Linked DNA regions of Homo sapiens: all the other regions are linked to region 1. The links come from fine-mapping of genetic effects on gene expression. A gene starts in region 1. Each other region holds a variant in brackets. All regions are shown on one strand. Distances are from middle to middle. Region 1 holds the start of PI4K2B (phosphatidylinositol 4-kinase type 2 beta). Region 2 has its middle 24 kb from the start of ZCCHC4. Region 3 holds the start of SEPSECS (Sep (O-phosphoserine) tRNA:Sec (selenocysteine) tRNA synthase).

Evidence for each region. PIP is the estimated chance that this variant, and not a neighbour inherited with it, causes the effect.
Region 2: its variant is fine-mapped to the expression of PI4K2B in whole blood (INTERVAL, PIP above 0.99).
Region 3: its variant is fine-mapped to the expression of PI4K2B in whole blood (INTERVAL, PIP above 0.99).

Annotation. Positions count from the first base shown.
Region 1 is chr4:25,230,367-25,238,549 of GRCh38, forward strand. PI4K2B (phosphatidylinositol 4-kinase type 2 beta) reads left to right here and starts at 3,667. Exons shown (of 10, transcript NM_018323.4): 1 at 3,667-4,065. The coding sequence starts at 3,798. It overlaps LOC105374535 (a long non-coding RNA gene), which reads right to left and starts at 3,499. Exons shown (of 4, transcript XR_925490.3): 1 at 3,423-3,499. RefSeq lists silencers at 3,457-3,766, 3,867-4,106, 4,147-4,206 and enhancers at 3,493-3,994, 3,995-4,494, 4,427-4,556.
Region 2 is chr4:25,284,726-25,292,908 of GRCh38, forward strand. No RefSeq gene overlaps it. Among named protein-coding and RNA genes, the nearest start is that of ZCCHC4, 24 kb to the right of the region's middle. The variant G/A (reference allele first, on the strand shown) is at 4,916.
Region 3 is chr4:25,155,357-25,163,539 of GRCh38, forward strand. SEPSECS (Sep (O-phosphoserine) tRNA:Sec (selenocysteine) tRNA synthase) reads right to left here and starts at 5,093. Exons shown (of 11, transcript NM_016955.4): 1 at 4,900-5,093; 2 at 3,597-3,751; 3 at 1,500-1,618; 4 at 681-839. The coding sequence starts at 5,013. SEPSECS-DT (SEPSECS divergent transcript) reads left to right here and starts at 5,316. Exons shown (of 2, transcript NR_037934.1): 1 at 5,316-5,397. RefSeq lists a silencer at 4,777-4,946 and an enhancer at 5,057-5,356. The variant T/TA (reference allele first, on the strand shown) is at 3,754.

The DNA.
Region 1 (8,183 bases):
TCCTGGTGGGTGGGAGAAGAGCCCTTTCCTGCCCTGCTCATGCTGTCTAATGGCCTGTGACAGCATGACTTTAGTAGGCTTTGGGAAATCAAGAGTTTTGAAGATTATTGGTAAAATAAAGACATTTGGTTGAAATTAGGTCAGACATTAGGTTTGCTAAATGCTTTAAGGTAATAAACTGCTTCTAAAAAAAAAAAGAATGACATTTCTCCAAATTTTGTGGAAAACATAAATCTACAGATTCAAGAAGTAAAGCAAAACCTAAGCAAGATATTTGTAAAGAAAATCATACCAAAAACATCATGGTCAAACTATTGAAAATCAAAGAACCAAAGAACCAGAGAAAATCTTAAAGGCAGCTAGAGAAAATGACATAGCACAAGTCGGGTGTGTAAGTGAAGGGTTATGATTCAAAAACAATGAAGGCAAGAGGACAATAGAATGACATATTTACAGTTGAACTTAGATGGGTAAGGATAGCAATATCAACCCAGAAGTCTGTATCCAGAGGACATAGCATTTGAAAATGATGGTAAAATAAAGACAATTTCTAATAAATTAAAACTTAAATTTATCACCAGTGTATTAGTCTGTTTTCATGCTGCAGATGAGGACATACCTGAGACTGGGCAATTTACAAAAGAAAGAGGTTTACTGGACTTACAATTTCACATGGCTGGGGAGGCCTTGCAATTATGGGGGAAGGCAAAGAGGAGAAAGTCACATCTAACGTGGATGGGAGCGGGCAAGGAGAGCTTGGGCAGGGAAACTCCTGTTTTTCAAACCATCAGATCTCATGAGACTCACTTACCATCATGAAAACAGTATTGGAAAGATCTGCCCCCATGACTCAATCACCTCCCACCTCCCACCTCCCACAACACGTGGGAATTGAAGATGAGATTTGGTGGAGACACAGCCAAGCCATATTAATCAGCAAATCTGCATTATAAAATTTGTTTTTAATTCTTCAGAGGAAAGGGAAATGATACTAGATAGAAACTCTGATCTACAAAAAGGAAGGAAGAACACCGGAAGTTGTAACTATGTGGGTAATTTCTCTAAAAAAGCAATTAAGGCAAAAATTATTCACTGTATTTAAATATTTAGGTCTAGTATACATGACAGCAATAACATAAACGATGGGGCATAAATGGAATGACACTAAGTTCTTACCTCTTATGTCAAATAGTACAATATTGGCTCTTAGTACACTGAGATAATTTAAGGATGAGTATTGAAAACCCTAGTGTAAGCACTAAAAATTAATGTAAAGAAGTATAACAGAGGCCAGGCGTGGTGGCTCATGCCTGTAATCCTAGCACTTTGGGAGGCTCAGGTGGGTGGATCACAAGGTCAGGAGATCAAGAACATCTTGGCCAACATGGTGAAACCTCGTCTCTACTAAAAATACAAAAATTAGCTGGGCATGGTGGCATGTGCCTGTAGTCCCAGTTACTCAGAAGGCTGAGGCAGGAGAATAGCTTGAACCCAGGAGACAGAGGTTGCAGTGAGCCAAGATTGCACCACTGCACTCCTACCTGGGCAGCAAGAGTGAAACTCCATCTCAAAAAAAGAAAAAAAATAAGTATAACAGAAAGTCAATGGTGGAATGAAAATGAAATAATCAGAATTATTGAATTAATCCAAACGAAGGCAGGAAAGGAGGAACAGAGGAACCGAAAAGGTTAAAGCAAATAAAACCCAAATTGCAAAATAATAGATCTAAATCCAACCACATCATTATTACATTAAATGTAAATGGACCCCAAACTCCAATTAAAAGGCATTTACAGGCCAGGTGCAGTACCTCACACCTGTAATCCCAGCACTTTGGGAGGCCGAGGCGGGTGGATCATCTGAGGTCAGGAGTTCGAGACCAGCCTGGCCAATGTGGTGAAACCCTATCTCTACTAAAAAATACAAAAATTAGCCGTGCATGGTGGCAGGCACCTGTAATTACAGCTATTCTTTCTTTAAAGCGGAGAAGGCATCAGGGAAGAGGGTTGTAGGTGGTGAAGCAAATGGTTACATTTTTGCTAGACTTTAGGTAGTGCCCAGTAACTCTATGCTATGCATAAGATAAGGTGAATATTCAAAGAAAATGGAGTAAAGGAAGTTAATTATACAGATATCTCAGGTGAAGGAATGATTGATCTTATCCTTGTTCTGCATCTGGGAAGATAAGCTTGTAACTGAATTTATCCATGTGAAATTTAACAGACTTTAGTTGTACCAGTTTGATTTAGGTTGCAGACTTAAAGTTATACAATTGACACGTCCTTGTTTTATGGAAGGATATACATCTTGAAAGGTTTAAGGGCCAGTAAAGAATTTACTATGATTAATTTGTTGAGGACAGTCATCCTGAGACTGAGATGCATAAGGCTTTTTTTTGCATTTTGAGGAGGGTCTGGCTAACATATAAAGTTTTAATACAACTATGGGAAGTAACAGCTATCCATTTGGGAAAAGCATTGTAGTGTTGAGTGACTTCAGTCTCCAGGCTTAACTCTCCCTTTGACATAACAAGTTGGGGGTGGGGGGTGGTTCTGAGATTTTTATTTTCCTTTACAGGGTCAAAGAGGAAATCATAAAGGAAATTAAAAACTATTTTCAGCTGAAGGAAAACAAAAGCACAGTAGCAGGCCAGGCAAGGTGGCTTATGCTTGTAATCCCAGAATTTTGGGATGCTGAAGCAGGACGACTGCTTGAGACCAGGAGCTCAAGACCAATCTGGGCAACAGTGAGATCCCATCTCTACAAAAAATTTAAATTTAAAAATTAACAGGATGTGGTCGTGCACACCTGCAGTTCCAGCTACTGTGTCTTCTACAGTTTAAAGCTGAGAAGATCCCTTGAGCTTAGGAGGTTGAGACTGCAGTGAGCTATGATTGTGTCACTGCACTCCAGCCTGGATAACAAAGTGAGACCCTGTCTCAAAAATAACAACCACCAAGAAAAAAAAAAAGGAGAATTCAGCTAAAGCAGTGCTTAGAGGGCAATTTATAGCCTTAAAATACTAGCATTGGAAAAGCAGAAAGATCCAGAATCAATCATCTTCTACTCTAAGCAACTAGAAAAAGAAGAGGAAATCAAAACTCAAGTGAGCAATAAAGAGCAAAATAAGGCAATGGACCAGAAAACAGAAAATCAATGGAACCAAAACATGACATTTTGAAAAGATTTAAAAATTGATAAACTTCTAGCTAGATTAGTCAGAAAAAGAAAACATACAAACTGCCACTATCAAGAATATCTGAACAAAGACAAGGTCCCTGCCCTCCTGGACGTCTACTGGAGGAAAGAAATGTCATACAATTAAATCTATAGTTACAGATTATGGTAAACTCTGAGAGAGAATTCTGTCAGGGAGAAGCCGCTTTTGGTTGCAGGAGGGCACCTCTTTGAAAATTACTCACCTTCCCGCCCTCCACTGGGAGTAAAGCGAGCTGTGCCCAGCTTCTCCCCGCGCTCACGGAAGCAGGTGGCGGCCCCACCCCACCTGACCCCTCAAAAGCCCCGCCCCCTGTTCACTCCCACGTGCCCCGCTGCCGCCGCCGCCGCCGCCACGACCCTTCTGCGCAGGCGCGGGGGTGGTGCCTGGCGGAGGCGCGAGGTGGGGCGCGGCCGGCGGCGAGGCGGGACAACCGCTGGGCGGGCGCCAAGCGTGCCCGTGCGCTGGTGAGGTGGCGTCCGTTCTACCCGGTCGCTCCCGTTCCGCGCCATGCAGAGCCCAGTCTCTGGCACCTGGCTGCTCTGATCTGGTCTCAGCGCGGAGGGAGCAGAGGGAGTCCATGGAGGATCCCTCCGAGCCCGACCGGTTGGCGTCCGCGGACGGCGGGAGCCCGGAGGAGGAGGAGGATGGGGAGCGGGAGCCGCTGCTACCGCGGATCGCCTGGGCCCACCCGCGGAGAGGCGCCCCAGGCAGCGCCGTGAGGCTGCTGGACGCTGCCGGGGAGGAGGGCGAGGCCGGCGACGAGGAGCTGCCCCTCCCGCCCGGGGACGTGGGGGTCTCCCGGAGTTCGTCCGCCGAGCTGGACCGGAGCCGCCCCGCGGTTTCAGGTGCGACCCGGCCCTGCCCCACTCCCCGCGCCCCTCCGGGCGGCTGCCCCTGTCGCCCGGCTCGGTCCTGTCTCCCGCGCGCGCTGGCCGAGGTGGACGGGCTTTCCCCGCTCGCTGGGCAGCAGCTCCCGAGCTCGGACCGGCGCCAGCCGCAGCCGCACCGCGGGCACCTAGCTTGCTCGCTCTTTCTCCGGGAGCTCCCTCTCCTAAGGCCAGTGGTTGTCATTAAACCGATTCTTTAGACCTCCCCGCAAAGTGAGTCAAAACTTCTAGAAACCGACACTGGGGAGAGGTTAACGCTGTAAAATGACGTAAGTCCTTGCTCAAGTTTGGACTTGACTTTTGAATTAAGAACCTTGAACTCTCAGGAAAGTTCCCGGAGTGGTGAATTTGCAAAGTGGATGACAGGAGAGAGATGGACAGCCAGAATATCCAGTTGCCACTGGGGCACGTTTCAAAACCTTTTTCTATTAAATGTTGTTATTATGAAGTTAGCCACAGGGGGCAAAAGCAGTTGAAAGTCTGTTCCTGCCCTCTTACAGTTTAGTTTCTCTTTCTTGATTTACTTCTAATACATAAGAAAACCAAAACGAAAAACCTCTTTTCGCTATTAAGCGGACTGATAACCTCAGGCGAAACAGGGCAGTTGAAATGATGTTGAAGGTTAAATTTAGGTATGCTGTGCAGGCCTGGATATTTATTAATAAAGTGAGTTTTTCTGGCGTGTTGAATGGAGTTAGACAAATGTGATGGAAATAGCAAGAGACTTGTAAGACTCTCAGCTAGAGGTGAGACAGACTTGTTTGTAAAAAGGCGATGGTACACCTCCCTGCTGGTTGTGAGGATGGATTAAATGAGATGTTGTGCACCCGGTTGGTTTATCGCTTCACACATGACAACTTAAAAACCACAGAAAATGGAAGTTTCTTTAACACTGCTTAGTTTTTTTTGGAATTGTTAGATTTTAAATGTACTGTTAGTGGTACACTAATGTGTCCTTTACAGTTTAAAGAATTTTGGATAGAATCGGTCACTCAAGTTCTAGCTAGAGGCTACATTCAGGCATATTCTAGAGTAAATAAATCAGAGAATCCCAAGGGGAGCAGTTTGTCTGATTGTTTAAGCTTTAACCAACGTCTGCTCCCGTTATAATGTTACCTGATGGATGCATTGACGTTTAACCAAACAACGTGAAGCTGAAACCAGATCACAAACGGGTCTGCATTTGCCTAGCTACATTGGCAATTTGGGTATATGTTACTTAGAATTTAGTCTGTAAAATAGCTAGCTTGCCTTTTTCTGTCCCTTACCTTGTGTAAGCTACCTTGTGTACCTGGGTTTTTAAAAGAGCCTAAAGCCTTCAAAATGCACTTGTTCTGTGAAAGTGAGGTGTTTTATAAACAAACAGTATTAAGGCTAGAAAAAAATCAAAGCGAGAGGTCAACGAGATGGCAGGCCTGTAATCCCATCCCAGCATTTTGGGAGGTCTAGGCAGGAGAATAGCTTGAGGCTGGAAGTTCGAGACCCACCTGGGCAACATAGCGAGATCCCCATCTCTATAAAAAATAAACAACAACAACAACAAAAATTCAAAGTGAGGATAGAGTATAGTGTTAGAATACAAATGGATTCTTAGAATTCCTACCTTTTTTAAAGGTAATATCTTACCTGTATCACAGTTTACAATTTGCTAAGATCTTTTTTAAAAAAATATTTTATTCTCCACTGCACTCCAGCCTGGTTCTGTCTTGAGACAGAGCAAGACTCTGTCTCAAAAATAAATAAATAAATAAATAAATAAATAAATAAATAAATAAATAAATAAATTTTATTCTCTGTTGGGTGCCATGGCTCATGCCTGTAATCCCAGCATTTTGGAAGGCCTAGGTGGGTGGATCATTTGAGGTCAGGAGTTTTCAGACCAGCCTGGCCAACATGGTGAAACCCTGCCTCTACTAAAAATAGAAAAATTAGCCAGGCATGGTGGCGGGCGCCTGCAATTCCAGCTACTTGGGAGGCTGAGGCAGGAGAATCGCTTCTGAACCCGAGAGGTGTAGGTTGCAGTGAGCAGAGATGGCTCCACTGCACTCCAGCCTGGGTGACAGAGTGAGACTTTGTCTCAAAAAAAAAATTAATTATTTTCACAACAGCACAGCAAGTTAGTTGTTATTCGCCATTATTCTCATTATGAGGATTCAGAATTAATAAACTGGTAATGACTGGTAGCTCAGGTCTTCAGAGGTAAATGGTTTGCCCGAAGTCAAATATCCAGGAAGTAATAAATCAGGAGGAAGCCTGGTTCTTTCTTCATCTTCTGCCCCTTTTCCGTTTTGCCATGGGTCCACAAGTGTTATAAAATAATTGTGTCTGTGGTTATTTTGGAGGTTTTTACCTTTAATAGGACTTTAAAATAGTTTCTGTGAAAACTGTTTAAAAAATTTTTAAAGACTAAAATGTTCATGATTGAGTAATTTAATACTTTTTAAGTTTAGTTATTTTTTAAATGACTCCATTAACTTCATTTGTCCTTTACCATCCGATTTCCATGAAACTACCTCACTAGTTCCAAGAAATTCTTGCCTTTAGATTAATATGAACATCATTTATGATGCTTAACTCTTACTTATATAAGCAAGAGGTTTATGTACTTTAGCCAGTGGAAGAATGTCATATGTCTGTTATCTTCAACAAGGCATTTAACAAAGCCTACAAACAGCATAAACCATAGTGTTGTTGGATCAGTGTCAAAGTGGAAGGATTAGTGCATTCCTTGTTCTAGTTATTTTAATCAGTGAATTCGGTAGTAATGACAGCTAATGCCTACATAGCAGTTAATATGCGCTAGGCATAGTTCTGTATGCTTCATATATATTAATTCATAACCAACCCTGTGATGTGAGTACTATTTTTGTTTTTTTTTTTTGTTTTTGGCAGTGGGTGGCTGTAGGGGTGGCAGTGGGGGAACAGAGTTTCATTCCTGTCACCCAGGCTGGATTGTAATGGCGTAATCTCGGCTAACTGCAACCTCCACTCCCCAGGTTCAAGCGATTCTCCTGCCTCACCCTCCCAAGTAGCTGGGATTACAGGCACATGCCTGGCTAATTTTGTATTTTTAGTAGAAACGGGGTTTCACCATGTTGGTCAGGCTGGTCTCGAACTCCTGACCTCAGATGATCCTCCCGCCTCGGCTTCCCAGAGCACTGAGATTACAAGGCCACCATGCCTGGCCTTGTTCTCATTTTAAGAAAGTATAGGGAGAGGCTGGGCATGGTGGCTTACGCCTGTAATCCTAACACTTTGGGAGGCCTCTTTGGTGCACACCTGTAGTCCAAGCTACTCAGGAGACCGAGGCAGGAGGATTGCTTGAGTCCATGAGTTTCAGGTTACACTGAGTCCAGTGAGCTATAATTGCACCACTATACTCCAGCCTGGGTTACAGAAAAAGACCCTGTCTCAAAAGAAAAAAAGAAAAAGCACAAAGAAGTGAAGTGACTTCTCCAAGGTCCCAGTTAATACAAATCAGGAGCGCTTAGCTCCTGTTAGAGAGCCTAACAGTTAGAAAACAGTGTTAGAATTCACAAAGAGCTGCCAAAGTAAAAGAAAATGTGAATTTGTAAGTCATTTAATGATTCATGGTGGTTTATAAATATGTGAACAGAATAAGAAAATCATTTAAAAGGAAGAAAGATGAGAAGATGGAGCCTGGAGTAAGATTACACAAGATGTACCTCAGATGCTTGATGCAGGCAACCCACAGATTTGATTTTTGAAATTACTGAGCAGCTAACTTGAGAGAAACACAATCATGTGGTCTATACAGTTAAAATAAACTGGTTATTTGAACCAAAACAGAACAGACAAAGGGTAGCCTGTCACAGTCTCTTGGTGAATGCTGTATGCTGAACAATATCTGTGATTAAAGTGATTAATTTCATAAAGGTAGTTCTTATAACTTCCCTAAAGTCCATTTCAGCAGAAATGGTTTTAACTACTGGTGCTATTGTGTCCGGAATTGGTGGGTTCTTGGTCTCACTGACTTCAAGAATGAAGCCATGGACCCTCGCGGTTAGTGTTACAGTTCTTAAAGGCGGTGTGTTCGGAGTTTGTTCCTTCTGATG
Region 2 (8,183 bases), 54 kb after region 1:
AAGTGAGAACATGTGGTATTTGTTTTTCTGTTCCTGCATAGTTTGCTGAGGATAATGGCTTCAAGCTCCATCCATGTCCCTGCAAAGGACATGATTTCATTCCTTTTTAAGGTTGCATAGAATTCCACGGTATACATTTACCACATTTTCTTTATCCAGTCTATCATTGATGGACATTCGGGTTGACAATAATAATAATAATTCCATGTCTTTGTTATTGTGAATAGTGCTGCAATGAACATACATATGCATGTGTCTTCATAATAGAATGATTTGTATTCTGGCCGGGCGCGGTAGCTCACGCCTGTAATCCCAGCACTTTGGGAGGCCGAGGCGGGGGGATTGCGAGGTCAGGAGATGGAGACCATCCTGGCTAACAAGGTGAAACCCCTTCTCTACCAAAAAAAATACAAAAAATTAGCCGGGCTTGGTGGTGGGCGCCTGTAGTCCCAGCTACTAGGGAGGCTGAGGCAGAAGAACTGCTTGAACCCATGAGGTGGAGGTTGCAGTGAGCCGAGATCACGCCACTGCACTCCAGCCTGGGCGACAGAGCGAGACTCCATCTCAAAAAAAAAAAAAAAAGAATGATTTGTATTCCTTGGGTATATACCCGGCAATGGGATTTCTGGGTCAAATGGTATTTCTGGTTCTAGATCTTTGAGGAATCCCCACGCTGTTTTCCACAATGGTTGAACTAATTTACATTCCCACCAACAGTGTAAAAGTGTTCCTATTTCTCCACACCCTCACCAGTATCTGTTGTTTCTTGACTTTTTAATAATCACCATTCTGACTGGCATGAGATGTTATCTCATTGTAGTTTTTTGTGTGTGTGAGTGAAGGAGTCTCACTCTGTTGCCCAAGCTGGAATGCAGTGGTGTGATCTCCCCTCACTGCAATCTCTGCCTCCTGGGTTCAAGCGATTCTGCTGCCTTAGCTTCCCAAGTAGCTGGGACTATAGGTACACACCACCATGCCTGGCTAATTTTTGTATTTTTAGTAGAGACAGGTTTCAGCACGTTGGCCAGGCTGGTCTTGAACTCCTGACCTCAAGTGATCCACCTGCTTTGGCCTCCCAAAGTGCTGGGATTATACGCATGAGCCACTGTGCCCAGCCTCACTGTAGTTTTGATTTGCATTTATCTAATGGTCAGTGATGTTGAGCTTTTTTTCATGTTTGTTGGCTGCATAAATGTCTTCTTTTGAGAAGTGTCTGTTCATGTCCTTTGTCTACTTTTTAACAGGGTTGTTTGTTTTTTTCTTGTGTATTTGTTTAAGTTCTTTTAGACTATGGATATTAGACCTTTGTGTAGTTGCAAAAATTTTCTCCCATTCTGTAGGTTGTCTTTCTCACCAATAATAGTTTCTTTTGCTGTGCAGAAGCTCTTTAGTTTAATTAGATCCCATTTGTCAATTTTTGCTTTTGTTGCAATTGCTTTTGACCTTTTTGTAATGAAATCTTTGCCCATGCCTATGTCCTGAATGGGTATTGCCTAGATTTTCTTCTAGGGTTTTTACAGTTTGGGGTTTTACCTTTAAGTTTTTAATCCATCTTGAGTTAATTTTTATAGAAGGTGTAAGAAAGGGGTCCAGTTTCAATTTTCTGCATATGGCTAGCCAGTTCTCCCAGAACCATTGATTAAATAGGGAATTCTTTCCTTATTGCTTGTTTTTGCCAGGTTTGTTGAAGATCAGATGGTTGTAGATGTGCAGTCTTATTTCTGAGATCTCTATTCTGTTTCATTGCCCTATGTGTCTGTTTTTGTACCAGTACCATGCTGTTTTGGTTACTGTAGCCTTGTAGTAGAGTTTGAAGTTGGGTAATATGTATTGTTCTTTTTGCTTAAGATTGTTTTTGCTACACGGGCTTTTTTTGTTGTTGTTCTATATGAATTTCAAAGTAGTTTTTTCTAATTCTGTGAAGAAGGTCTGAGGTAGTTGAATGGGAATAGCATTGAATCTATGAATTAATTTGGGCAGTATGGCCATTTTCACAATATTGATTCTTCTTCTCCATTAACTTGGAATATTTCTCCATTTGTTTGTGTCCTCTCTGACTTCCTTGAGCAGTGGTTTGTTGTTCTCCTTGAAGAGGTCCTTCACTTCCCTGGTTAGCTGTATTCCTAGGTATTTTATTCTCTTTGTAGCAATTGTGAATGGGAGTTCATTCATGATTTGGCTCTCTGCTTGTCTATGGTTTTTGGACAGGAATGCTTGTGACTTTTGCATATTGATTTTGTATCCTGAGACTTTGCTGAAGTTATTTATCAGCTTAAGAAGCTTTTGGGCCAAGACAATGGGGTTTTCTAGGTATAGGATCATGTCATCTGCAAACAGAGGCAGTTTAACTTTCTCTCTTCCTATTTGAATCCTCTGTTTTTTCCTCTTGCCTGATCGCCCTGACCAGAAATTCCAATACTATGTTGAATAGGAGTGGTGAGAGAGAGCATCCTTGTCTTATGCCAGTTTTCAAGGGGAATGCTTCCAGCTTTTGCCCATTCAGTATGATATTGCTGTGGGTTTGTCATAAATGGCTCTTATTATCTTGAGGTGTGTTCCATCAATACCTAGTTTATTGAGAGTTTTTAACATGAAAGGATGCTGAATTTTACTGAAGGCCTTTTCTGCATCTATTGAGATAATCTTGTGGTTTTTGTTTTTAGTTCTGTTTATGTGATGAATTATGCTTATTGATTTGCATACATTGAACCAGCCTTGCATCCTGGGGATGAAGCTGACTTGATTGTGGTGGATAAGCTTTTTGATTTGCTGCTGGATTTAGTTTGCCAGTATTTTATTGATGATTTTTGCATTGATGTTCATCAGGAATATTGGCCTGAAGTTTCTTTTTTTGTTTTATCTCTGCCAGGTTTTGGTATCAGAATGATGCTGGCCTCATAAAATGAGTTAGGGAGGATAGTCTCCTTTTATAGTTTGGAATAATTTCAGAAGAAATGGTACCAGCTTCTCTTTATACTTCTGGTAGGATTCAGCTGTAAATCCATCTGGTCCTAGACTTTTTTTTGTTGGTTGGCTATTTCTTACTGCCTCAATTTCAGAACTTGTTACTGTTCTATTCAGGAATTCAACTTCTTTCTGATTCAGTCATGGGAGGGTGTATATATACAGGAATTTATCCATTTCTTCTAAATTTTCTAGTTTATTTGCATAGAGGTGTTTATAGTTTTCTCTAATGGTTGCTTGCATTTCTGTGGGATCAGTTATGATATCTACTTTATCATTTTTTTATTGTGTCTGTTTGATTCTCCTCTCTTTTCTTGTTTATTAGTCTAGCTAGTAGTCTATTTTATAAATTTTTTCAAAAAACCAGCTCCTGGATTAGTTGATTTTTTTTAAGGATTTTTCATGTCTCCATCTCCTTCAGTTCCAGTCTGATCTTGGTTATTTCTTGTCTTCTTCTAGCTTTAGGGTTTTTTTGCTCTTGGTTCTTTAGTTCTTTTAGTTGTGATGTTACAGTGTCAATTTGAGATCTTTCTAGCTTTTTGTTGTGGACATTTAGTGCTATACCTTTCCCTCTTAACACTGCTTTAGCTGCATCCCAGAGATTCTGGTACGTTGTCTTTTTGTTATCCTTGGTTTCAAAGAACTTCTTGATTTCTGCCTTAATTTCATTATTTACCCAGTAGACATTCAGGAGCAGGTTGTTTAGTTTCCATGTAGTTGTGTGGTTTTGGGTGAGTTTCTTAATCTTGAGTTCTAATTTGATTGTGCTATGGTCTGAGAGACTGTTATGATTTCAGTTCTTATGCATTTGCTGAGGAGTGTTTTACTTCCAATTATGTCATGGATTTGAGAGTAAGTGCCATGTGGCACTGAGAAGAATGTATATTCTGTTGTTTTGGGTGGAGAGTTCTGTAGATATCTATCAGGTCCACTTGATCTACAGCTGAGTCCAAGTCCTGAGTATCTTTGTTAATTTTCTGTCTCAATGATCTGTTTAATATTGACAGCGGGGTGTTAAATTCTCCCACTATTATTGTGTGGGAGTCTAAGTCTCTTGGTAGGTCTCTATGAACTTGTTTTATGAATCTGGGTACTCCTGTGTTGGGTGAATATATATTTAGGATAGTTAGCTCTTCTTGTTGAATTGAACCCTTTACCATTATGTAATGCCCTTCTTAATTTTTTTTTCTTTGTTAGTTTAAAGTCTGTTGTGTCAGAAACCAGGATTGCAATTCTTGCATTTTTCTGCTTTCCATTTGCTTCGTAAATTTTCCTTCATCTCTTTATTTTGAGCCTATGTGTGTCTTTGCACATGAGATGGGTCTCTTGAATACAGGACCTGATGGGTCTTGACTCTTTATTCAGCTTGACATTTTGTGTCTTTTAATTGGGGCATTTAGCCCATTTATATTTAAGGTTAATATTGTTATGTGTGAAGTTTATCCTGTCATCGTGATGCTAGCTGGCTATTTTGCATACTTGCTGATGTAGTTGCTTCATAGTGTCATTGGTTTTTGTACTTCAGTGTGTTTTTGTAGTGGCCATTAATGGTTTTTCCTTTCCATATTTAGTGCTTCCTTCAAGAGCTCTTGCAAGGCAGGCCTGGAGGTGATGAATTGCCTCAGGATTTGGTTGTCTGAAAAGGATTTTCTCTTTCACTTAGGAAGCTTAATTTGGGCAGACATGAAATTCTGGGTTGGAAATTCTTTCCTTTAAGAATGTGGAATATTGAGCCCCAATCTCTTCTGGCTTGTAGTGTTTCTGCTGAGAGGTCCACTGTTAGGTTGATGGCCTTCTTTCTGTAGGTGATCTGGCCTTTCTCTTTGGCTGCCCTTAACATTTTTTCCTTCATTTTGACCTTGGAGGTAAATAAATATGTGTCTTGGGGTTGATCTTCTCACGGGGTATATTACAGGAATTCTCTGGATTTCCTGAATTGGAACGTTGGCCC[G/A]TCTTGCTAGGTTGGGGAAGTTCTCCTGGATGATATCCTAAAGTATGTTTTCCAACTTGGTTCTCTTCTCCCTGTCTCTTTCAGGTACCCCAATCAGTTGTAGGTTTGGTCTTTTTCTATAATCCCATAGTTCTCAGAGATTTCGTTTGTTCCTTTTCATTCTTTTTTTTTTTTTTTCCTAATTTCATCTGCCTGTCTCATTTCAGCAAGATAGTCTTCAAGCTCTGAAATTCTTTCCTCCACTTGGTCTATTCGGCTATTGATATTTGTGGTTGCATTGTGAAGTTCTTGTGTTGTTTTTCAGCTCCATCAGGTTATTTATGCTCCTCTCTACACTGGTTATTCTGGTAACAACTCCTGTATTGTTTTATCATGTTCCTTAGCTTCTTTGCATTGAGTTAGAACATGTTCTTTTAGCTCAGTGAAGTTTGTTATTACCCACCTTCTGAAGCCTGCTTCTGTCAAATTCATCCATCTCAGCCTCTGCCCAAATCTGTGCCCTTGGTAGAAAGGTGTTGCAACCATTTGAAGGAGAAGAGGCACTCTGGCTTTTTCAGTTTTCAGCAATTTTTCGTTGATTCTCATCTTTGAGAGTTAATCTAGCTTCAATCTTTGAGGCTGCTGAACTTGGGATGGGGTTTTTGTGGGGACTTTTTTGTTGATGCTGTTGTTGTTGTTGTTTTCTGTTTGCTTGTTTCTCTTTTAACAGTCAGGCCCTTCTTCCATAGGGCTGCTGCGATTTGCTGGGGGTCCACTCCCAACCCTATTTTCCTGGGTCCCTCCTGGACCTGAAGGTGTCACCAGTGGAGGCTGCAGAAGAGCAAAGATGGCTGCCTGCTCCTTTCTCTGGGAGCTCTGTCCCAGAGGGGCACCAACTTAATACTAGCAGGAACGGTCTTGTATAAGGTGTCTGGCAACCTCTGTTGGGAGGTCTCACCTAATTAGGAGGCACAGGATCAGGGATCTGCTTAACGAAGCACTCTGGCTGCCCCTTAGCGGAGATGGTGCACTGTGCTGTGGGGAATCCCACTCATCTGGACTGCCTGGACTTCTCAGAGCCAGCTGGTGGAAAGACTAAGTCTGCTGATCCACAGAGACCGCGACCATCCCTCCCTACAGGGCTTCGTCCCAGGGAGATTAGAGTTTTGTCCATAAACCCCTGGCTGGAATTGCTGAAATTCCCGCAGGGAGGCCCCGCCTAGTGAGGAGGCAGTCTGGCCACAATCAGCCACAGCCACTGTGCTGCACTGTGGAAAATTCCTCCTGGATCCAAACTACAGACTAGAGCTGCAGTGATGACTGCTGCCCCTCCCCCGGGGAGCTCAGTTGTCTTAGGCCAAAGGCAGCTGCAGTGATAATGGCTCCCCGCCTCCCTGCACCCCGGAACTCAGTAGCTCAGTAGTCTTCAGCAGTCTCCAGCTGAGTGGCCACTGAGAATCTGCACAGCTCTGTGCTTGGGAACCAAGGTCCCAAGGCATGGGCTCACAAGAGGGACCTCCTGATCTGCGGGTTGCACAGATCCATAGAAAAAGTGTGGTTTCTCTGTGAGAAAATATTTGAAATGGTCCATTTTCAAGGCATGATAAATCTAAGTATGGCAGCCAGTCTGCAAATGTGACAAACCGCATGGCTCATGCGCCTAGAAGGTCACAATAAGAGAACAGAATGTAGAGGAGGGGTCAACCCACGAGAGAGAAGAAAGTTTCATTATTGCGAAATCAAAACTGAAGTGGAGAAGGGGACGGGGTATAACCTTATAAGAGGGATAATGAAACTTAGGCGACAACTGGGAAGATTGTAACCCCATAGTACTCAACCAATGAGGAACTGGGGGAGGGACTTGCGTGCTAGGAGATAAATTACCTGTTGTGACTGCCGTGGATGTGCCTGCTCACCAGACACCCAATCTTGCAAGACTGTTATTAAAAGTCTCACTTTTGCTGTTCTTCATGCCTCTAAGTCCATTCTTTGGGTTTAGACGGGTGGGAGCTCCCCTTACCCCGTGTGGCTCCCAGGTGGGCTGTCACCACCCTGCTTTTACCCGCTCTCCATGGGTCGCACCAACCTCCTAGCCAGTCCCAATGAAAGAACCTGGATACCTCAGTTGCCATTTTTGTTCTTCTCAGCGGCAGGCCCAGACTACAGCTGTTTCTAGTCAGCCATCTTGGCCCCTGGAGATATTTTTTATCTTGATCATGGTTCTGGTTTCACAAGTGAAGACATTCGTGAAAGACCATCAAATTGTACAGCTCGTTGTATGTGGATTATCCTTCATACAATAATAAAAAATGATTTACCATTTCAAATGGATCAGATTTGGGAAAAATTGGTACAGTCATTTCGTTGTTTTTTGTTGTTGTTTGTTTGTTTGTTTGTTTTTGTTTTTGTTTTTTTGAGGTAGAGTCTCAATTTGTCACCCAAGCTGGAGTGCAGTGGTGCAATCTCGGCTCACTGAAGCCTCGACCTCGCAGGTTCAAGTGATCCTCCTTCCTCAGCCCCCAAAGTAGCTAGGGCTAAAGGCACACACCAGTACACCTGGCTAAGTTTTATGTATTTTTAATAGAGACGGGGTTTCATCATGTTGCCCAGGCTGTTCTCAAACTCCTGAACTCAAATGATCTACCTACCTCAGCCTCATTCTGGAGAGCAATTATCTGGTAAAACTGAAGGTGCAAATACCTTGTGGTACTAATGCATGCAAGCAGACATATGCAAGGTTGTTCAATGCTGTGGTGTTTATAACACTGAAAAATTGAGAACAACCTAAAGATCTGACAGCAGGAAAATGGATAAGTAAATTGTGGTATGCTCATACTATGGAAGACTATAGAACAGTGAAAATAAATGAACTATAGCTACATGTATCAAATTGTGTACATAAACCTCAACACAGTGTTGAAGGAAAAATTTGCACAAGTATTTAACCGTATCCTTTTTGTAAATACAAAGCAGTACTATATGTTGCTTTTTGACATAGGCATATATGTAAGTATATGAATATGTGGACAGGAATGGTCTCCTTCTTCAGAATTGTGGTTACCTCTGGGCTAGGACAGTATGGAAGCAGACCCAAAGGGTACCAAAATATAAAGTTTTAAGTATAAAAGCATAAAATTTTATTTCTGGGCTATATGCAGTGGCTCATGCCTGTAATCCCAGCACTTTGGGAGGGAGGCGGGCAGATCTCTTGAGCCCAGGAGTTCAAGACCAGCCTGGACAACATGATGAAACCCCGTTTCTACCAAAAATACAAAAAATTAGCTGGGCA
Region 3 (8,183 bases), 75 kb before region 1:
AGGACCATAAGTCTATTTAACACTTGGATATGACAAGAATGAATTCTGGAAAGTAAGGAAAACAAATGTTAAATAGATATCTATAGAAGTAATAACATAGACACTGATGACAAAAAGGATCACTTTAATCCAGTTCAGTTTCAATCCACAGAAAAATAAGTCCACTCATTCTCTGGTGATATTTCTGTTTTATTTTAAAGTTCATTTTATTTCAGAGATGGACATAAATAATAATACAATTCACTCAGTGAAACAAATCACAATCATCTACTTAATGTTTTACCTCTAAAGAAAAACATAATAAATTTCAGTAGCCTAAGGATCACTGATCCATCTCATAGCCTACAAAAGCCTCCTATGAAAACAAAATGTATACTGTAAATTTTGCATAAAAATTGTTTTCACATTTTCAATTAAAACAGTACACTTAACTAGTATATACGCAAAGGTCCCCCAACAAATAATAATTATGGAACCATAGATATTTAGGTATCCATAAACTTAAAAGTTGCATAAAGTAATACAAACATTAAATTTTGTTACATATATTTTACAATTTTTTCTTTTAAAAAAGCAATAGGGAAGAGAGTTAGTTTATTTTTCATTTATCTATCTTTATATAAGAAATCTGAATTTCATAATTATGATGTTTAAAACATTATGTATGACACTTCTCTTACCTGCAGTGATCATGGATTTAAAGCAGGACTTCTGGTCTATTCGTGGCCATATAATATACTTTGCCTTTGGTCTTTTGTGTCGTAATGTTAAGAAACACAGAGTTAGACTCATACCAGTTGCCATAGGAACTACAAAGCAGTTGGCTACTGTATGGACACCTACAAATAAGAAGCAAAACAGAAATCTGTTATCCCGCTAAGCACCCAGCATCCTTCTTGAGGAAATAATATATTTCATATATAAAATAGTAAGAGTCGTAGCCCTAGGGCTTCTGTTTCTGTACTCGCTCTTGGAAAGCTCAATGCCAAATTCAACTTCAGGGCTTATGGCTCTGATTTTCTATCTTATTCTAAAGACTTTTTATTTAAAAAAAAAAAGTCTTTTCGGCCGGGCGCGGTGGCTCATGCCTGTAATCCCAGCATTTTGGGAGGCCAAGGCGGGCGGATCACGAGGTCAGGAGATCGAGACCATCCTGGCTAACACGGTGAGACCCCCGTCTCTACTAAAAATACAAAAAAAAATTAGCCAGGCGTGGCGGTGGGCACCTGTAGTCCCAGCTGCTCGGGAGGCTGAGGCAGGAGAATGGCGTGAACCCGGGAGACGGAGCTTGCAGTGAGCCGAGATCGCGCCACTGCATTCCAGCCTGGGCAACAGAGCTAGACTCCGTCTCAAAAAAAAAAAAAAAAAAAAAAAAAAAAGAAGTCTTTTCAAAAGCCACTCATACTCTTTTTGGAAAGGGGCAATAATAAATGAAATGAGTCAGTGGTGTGTGTGTGTGTCCAGACAGCCAAAAGCATTATGATTAAGACGGTACATACCAGCCAGCTTTATAATGTCCAGGACCAAAGAATTGGTAATTTTGTTCAAAAGGCTAGAGCCTGCAGCTTTTGGTTGCACAGCAGAAATATCACCGGATCGTCCAATGCCATGAATGAACCTAAGCAAAAAATGGGCCAAAAACTGGACAAATACATTCAGCATTCCGAGTAATACAATGTACAAATATGCAAATGTAATAACCAAAAAAACACCAGGAGCAATATTTGGCTGTTACAGATATATGTCACAAACTATTAATGATGTGGAACTCTCCTACTTAAATTGAAATAATTTCATCAATTATGCTGTGATAGCTAGTTTCCAAAGACGGCCACCATCAATTCTTTTTCTCCCTATGCCCACATGCTACTCCCACACCAAGAGATGGAGTCTACTTCCTCTCCACTTGAATCTGGGCTGAATTTAGTAACTTGCTTGGCCAGGAAGAATCTAGCAGAAGTAACTGTGTGAAATTTTCATGCTAGGCAAACCTTCAGATGACTAAACTCTCAGCCAGTATCTGACTGCAACTACATGACAGACCCAAAGCAATACTCACCCTGCTGAGCCCAGTTAATCCAAAAAGCTATGAGAGGTAACAATAAATGTTTTAAGCCACTTAATTTTAGGGTGGTTTGTTCTGTAGCAATAGAAAACTAGAATACATGAAATATTAAATTATCTTTTTTTTTTTTTTTTTCGTTTTGAGACGGAGTCTCGCTCTGTCGCCCAGGCTGGAGTGCAGTGGCGCGATCTCGGCTCATTGCAAGCTCCACCTCCCAGGTTCCCGCCATTCTCCTGCCTCAGCCTCCCGTGTAGCTGGGACTACAGGCGCCCGCCACCACGCCCGGCTAATTTTTTTGTATTTTTAGTAGAGACGGGGTTTCACCATGTTAGCCAGGATGGTGTGGATCTCCTGACCTCGTGATCCGCCCGCCTTGGCCTCCCAAAGTGCTGAGATTACCGGCGTGAGCCACCGTGCCCGGCCAAATTATCTTTTTTCTTTACTTTTCCCCTAATTCCACACTGGGCTAAGTTCCAATGATGGTTCAAATATTGCCTTAATTTTAAAAGAACTATATGCTCCTAGAAAATCAGTGTGCAAATCTCATTTTAAATTAGACAATATTATACATTGTTTAAAGATACCTCTCAATACTCTTTAAAATAAAAAACCCTTTCGTAATTTGAGTAATTTCTAATTGACAGTCAAATATATCAGAAATTCGGTATAGGAGGATTATCGAAGAATACTAGTGCTGTACTTCCTCACCACTGAAATCTCATGTACAAAACATTTCTTACATATATTATCAACCATGTTATCAGCAAACTGTTAACTGAAATTTTCATCCAAGTTAGGCATTATCATCAGTTTTGACTGCAGTGGTTTTTACTGAAATACAAATTCTACGATGCCCAGGAAATTTTCATTATAATGTAAAAGCATGGAAGACAGGAGTTTCATTTAAAAGAGTTTACACTTCACAGAAAGGTTAGTGGACAGAGCAATGAGTGATCATATTAACTACCAATTAACTACCAATTAAATCGTTATCAGAATTGATGAAAAGCTTTCTGCAATAATGCAAAAGAAAAAGGTCACTTAATAATCTAATACACCTTTCCCTGTATCTATTGCAACAGAGGTATTTATAAAATGAGATTCAGTTTAAACACAGTTTAAAACAAAATTTAAAGTTGATAACTATAAATCATTCAAAAAAAAAAAACACTACAAATGTTAGAAAAGAAATATGGAAAGCTATAAACAACCTTAATGGATTTTGAACTCTTACAACCAGATATGTTTATTAGGGTAACCGTTCCTAAGAAAACGTATAGCCTGTGTTAGTCACCCAGAACCTGACAGGGTAACCCCCACTTAGTTTTTACTCTATTGTCTTTGAAAAGCACCTGCTGAGATAAAATTGTTTCCATCTCCCTGTTGCATTTGGCTTACATATCCATTAGAGCAGGGAAGAAGTGGTTTACAAACTGACATTTGATAATCTAATAAGATAAATACTGCTGCCATTATTTTGAACCAAAAATAAATAAACGATGTATCTCCTGTACTACTTAAAAAAAGATACCTGTAATGACGACGAGCAACCAGTGCGGATGCCACTCTCCCTTCCCTTTCTCCCACACCACAATTGCCTAAGAAATTGTTGCTGTCCATGATTGCAAGTTCATGTAAAAAGAGTTCAAGTGTACTTTCATCCCAGCCATTCTCTGGACACTTGCCCT[T/TA]AAAAAAAAAAAAAAACTTATGATTATATTTAATAAAACTACCGTTCTCTAGAATACTACAGGAATACAGTTTTTCTTTTTAACGTGTATTTTGCCACGCTGCTTGTTTTCTAAAATTCAAGCATAAATTCACCACTGTATAGAGACCGCAAAGAGGCAAAACGTTTGTACATTTGATTACAATTATTTACAGATTTCGAGAAGTGATGATAAATGCATACAATGAGGTTTACTGAGATATTTAAATTTCCGTAAGTGAAACTAACTGAAAACCAATACAACACATCCCCAGTGAAGATGCTTCAAACCAGGGCGTTACGACTGGGGCGGTGGGACGTGGAGAAGGGCGGTAGTTGTCAAACTTCAGTGAAATTTTGGCCACGCGCTGTAGCTCACTCACGCCTGTAATCCGAGCACTTTGGAAGGCCAAGAATGGCCGATCACTTGAAGTCAGGAGTTTGAGATCAGCCTGGCCAACATGGTGAAACCCCATCTCTACTAAAAATACAAACATTAACCGGGTGTGGTGGCGGGCGCCTGTAGTCCCAGCTACTCGGGAGGCTGAGGCAGGCGAATGGCGTGAACCCGGGAGGCGGAGGCTGCAGTGAGCCGAGATCGTCACACTGCATTCCAGCCTGGGCGAAAGAGCGAGACTCTGTTTCAAAAAAACAAAACACAACAAAACTTTTAATGAAATTAAAATACATGAACGCTGGCAGGAGGGAGACCTGTGAAGTTCCGCGGAAAGCTCGTGGTTCGAGTTAGCATACAGTCTACAAACACCATTATGTGTTCTGAGTCGTTGAGGGTTGGTGAAAGATGGAGGTGCGAACTTTGCCCTTTCCGCGAATAAAAAAGTACACTGGGACTTTCCCTCACTTCCGCATCCCGAAGTTAGAAACAGCGGGACTCAAAACCCCGACCCCAACACCCCCTCCTAACAACACCATTTGGCTTTCACTGGCTTTGGCAAGGCTGAGAAGGCACAGACCGCAGTCGGTCAGCTAGGGCAAGCCAAGCTGAGACAGACTTGGGACTAGTCTCAAGCAGCGAAGAGCTGCCGGTGAGGCAGCACCAGCGGGGACGCCCGGCGGAGCCAGAGCCCCGGGGTCGCGGCGGCTGGGGAGGGGACCGACAGCTCGGTACCTTCTCCAGAAGCAGCCGTATGAGGTGCTCATGCGAGCGGCGGGCCTCACAGCCCTGCCGCACGTAAGCCGGCGACACCAGCCGCTCTCCCGCCGCGAAGCTCTCGCGGTTCATGACAGCGGTGGCGACAGTGGCGAATAAGCGGGAGCACTAGCTCCACACGCCAGACACACGACGGAACCAGAATGCAACTCGCCGCCTGGACGGTACGGCAGCGCCTTGGGACAAAAAACAAAACAAAACAAAACAAAACAAAAAAAACACTTCTCGTTCGTGCACATGCGCAGACCTTCTCAGATGGCGCTCCAGGAGGAAGTTGGCGTATTTGAGCATGCGCGAGGGAGTCCGCGCTTTTCGCTGACTTTTGGCAAAGGAAGGACTGAAATTAGCCCCGCCCCGCTGCGGCTGATTCGTCTAGTTAAACCCTGGTGTTCCTGACACAAACTTCAGGAAAGGATTTTGCACTTGTGCAGACCGGGCGAGCAGAGTAAGAAGCAGGTACGTGGGTTTTTCCAAGTTCTGTGTTTCAGTCCTGTTGGATGGTTGAGATCTGTGCAGGGTCTGTGCTTCCGCCTTATTCAAACTGTCAGATGCCAGAACCTTCGATCTTTACTTTGATACATTTCCACACTTATTACTGCCTCACAACCCCATAGGAAATAGCAGTGCCCCACTCATTTTCCCCTTGACACTACTGTTTAGCCATAGCACTTACTACTCACCACGTGACATGCCAGACGTTTGTTTATACACACACACACACACACCCATACCCATGAATGTAAACTCTCTAACCTAACGGCAGGACCTCGGTTTTTGCTGCGGTGCCCCCTTCCCCCGGGCACCTAAAACAGTGCCCAGAATAAAGTAGGGCCTAAAAAAAAAGTTGATATTGAATTAATGAATTAGTTTGACCATTCTGAAACTATCCCCAAGAACATTTTGTAAAATTGATTAAGGAGGGGAAAAAAATCCAACTAGGCTTACAGCTGCTGTTATTAAGCCAGCTTGCAGTGTGGCCGACTTTCTTGTAGCTGGTTGCTACTTACTACCCCAGGAGAATGTGGCCCTTGTCACAAGACTCTTCATTCTTTTTCTGCTCTGAAGATAAAATCTAAGACATTATGAGAAGATAAGCTTTCTGTTTGCATTGCTTCTTTAGGTCCCGCATACCAACAAAACTAAGGACGCCAACTTGTCTGGAAGGCCCAATAAAAAGCTGATTCATGGAGGAATGCAATTGTCACATCCTAATGATTTCATCTCCCTTACCCCAACGAATCGATAACCCCAAATTTTCCAGCCCCTCACCCTCCACAAATCCCCTTAAAAAACTTTGCCTAGAACCCCTTGATGAAATGGATTGAAGCTTGAGAACTCTTCCTGTTTCCTGGCTTGTAACTTGTGATTATTAAAACTTTCTCTGCTGCAAGCCTGCTGTCGGAATACTGGTCTGTTTCTGCACAGCCGGCATAGGAACCTGGCAGTGCTGTAACAGTTCAACAACTTAGAGGTTCACTGCTGGAGATCCCTGCCTCCAGTTTCCTTACAATCTTCATCTTATGTGAGCCTACAGTAATTCCTGACATTGCTTTCACCTGGTGGTTTGTCCATTTGCACTGAGTCACACCCACTTGCAAGAGCTGATTGTTAAATGTTCAGTAATTTTGTGAGCTAGTTTTCAAATACAGCCACTCAAAAATTATATTACAAGCAAAAGTAAAAATACTCAAAATTTGTCACTTCCTAATTATTTTACATTTTACTATTATCTATGCTCTTCAGGTTATTTACATGCATTTTATCTATATGGTGGAAATTCAATGTAATGTTATACTACTGCACATCTTCCAACTCCTCTTTTGATGATGTCACGTTGGCCATGGTGGGAGCATTTACACCATGGAAATCAGTAAACACCGCTAATCAGGCCCTTACACTCCAACCCACTCCCCTAGAAGTCAGTTGTTCAACATGTACCAGCTCATCACTGTTTCTACTGCATGTTCCCATGGCATCCAGCTATTAATATAAATCAGTCTATTTATGGTATTTGTTGAATTGCATTTCAATTGTTAATTTTCTGTCTCAACTAGACTGTGAACTCCTGGTTCACAAGGGCTATACCAATATCTGTGTTCAAAGCACAGCACTAAATACATAATAGCTGTTTGATAAATATTTGTTGAATGACATAGAGCATTTAACTACTTTAAACAGAAAGGTAAACCACAAAACAACAAGAATTTAGCATACTTTCTAAAATGAGTATTTTTCAAACTTTTGGAAAGTTGTGTTCCTATTCTCAAAATGCAACTATTTTTGCAACTTCTTCTTTGGAAAAGCCTTCAAAGCTGCTTTGTCAATCACATGCAAAATGTGCAAAAATCCCAAAATTAATGTCATTACTGAATGGACACGCCAGGTTTTTGAGCCAGCTTCTTCTCTTACCTTATTCACCACCTTACTTCAGAAAAATGTTTGTCTGTTTCCAAAAAGTTAGTCATTGTCAAGATATGCATTCATTAAAGGTATTCAAAAGATACCAGCTTTGGAAGCAATTTCAAGAGAAGTATTCTAAAATTACTTTCATCCATTCACTCACCCAACAAGTATTTATCCATATGCCCATTTTACAGATCAGGAAAGCAAAGCTCAAGAAGTTTGAGTAATGTATTTAAGGTTATACAATGAGTGACACTAGCAGAATTTAAACCTGTGTGTTCTGGACCTATTTTAAATGATGCTATCTATTAAAAATAGTATGTAATTATTATTTTAAAATAGTAGTTTGTAACTACTATTTTAAAATAGTATGTAATTACTATTTTTAATAATAGTATGTAATTACTATTTTTAATAGGGCAACATCAGAATAACCTCATGGTCTTTACAAGATGAAGCATCATTTAAAATAGGTCCAGAACACACAGGTTTAAATTCTGCTAGGGTCACTAGTTGTATAACCTTAAATACATTACTCAAACTTCCTGAGCTTTGCTTTATCTGTAAAATGGGGATATGGAAGAGGCAGTTATGATGATTAAATGAGAGGTAATTGCTCAATGACATCTTCCCCTAGATAGACTGACTATACAAATGGACAATGGCCAGATCATATGTGATAACAGAACTCTCACCCACAACCTCTCTAGCAACTAGACTTCCAAACCACCACCTCTGCAGCAATCAGCCAAGAATGGTTAAGACTTGGGCAATGACTGCCAGCTTCCCTCTTTTATTACTCGCTTCTAACTTAAGACCAACCAGAGAAAGCTAAATAT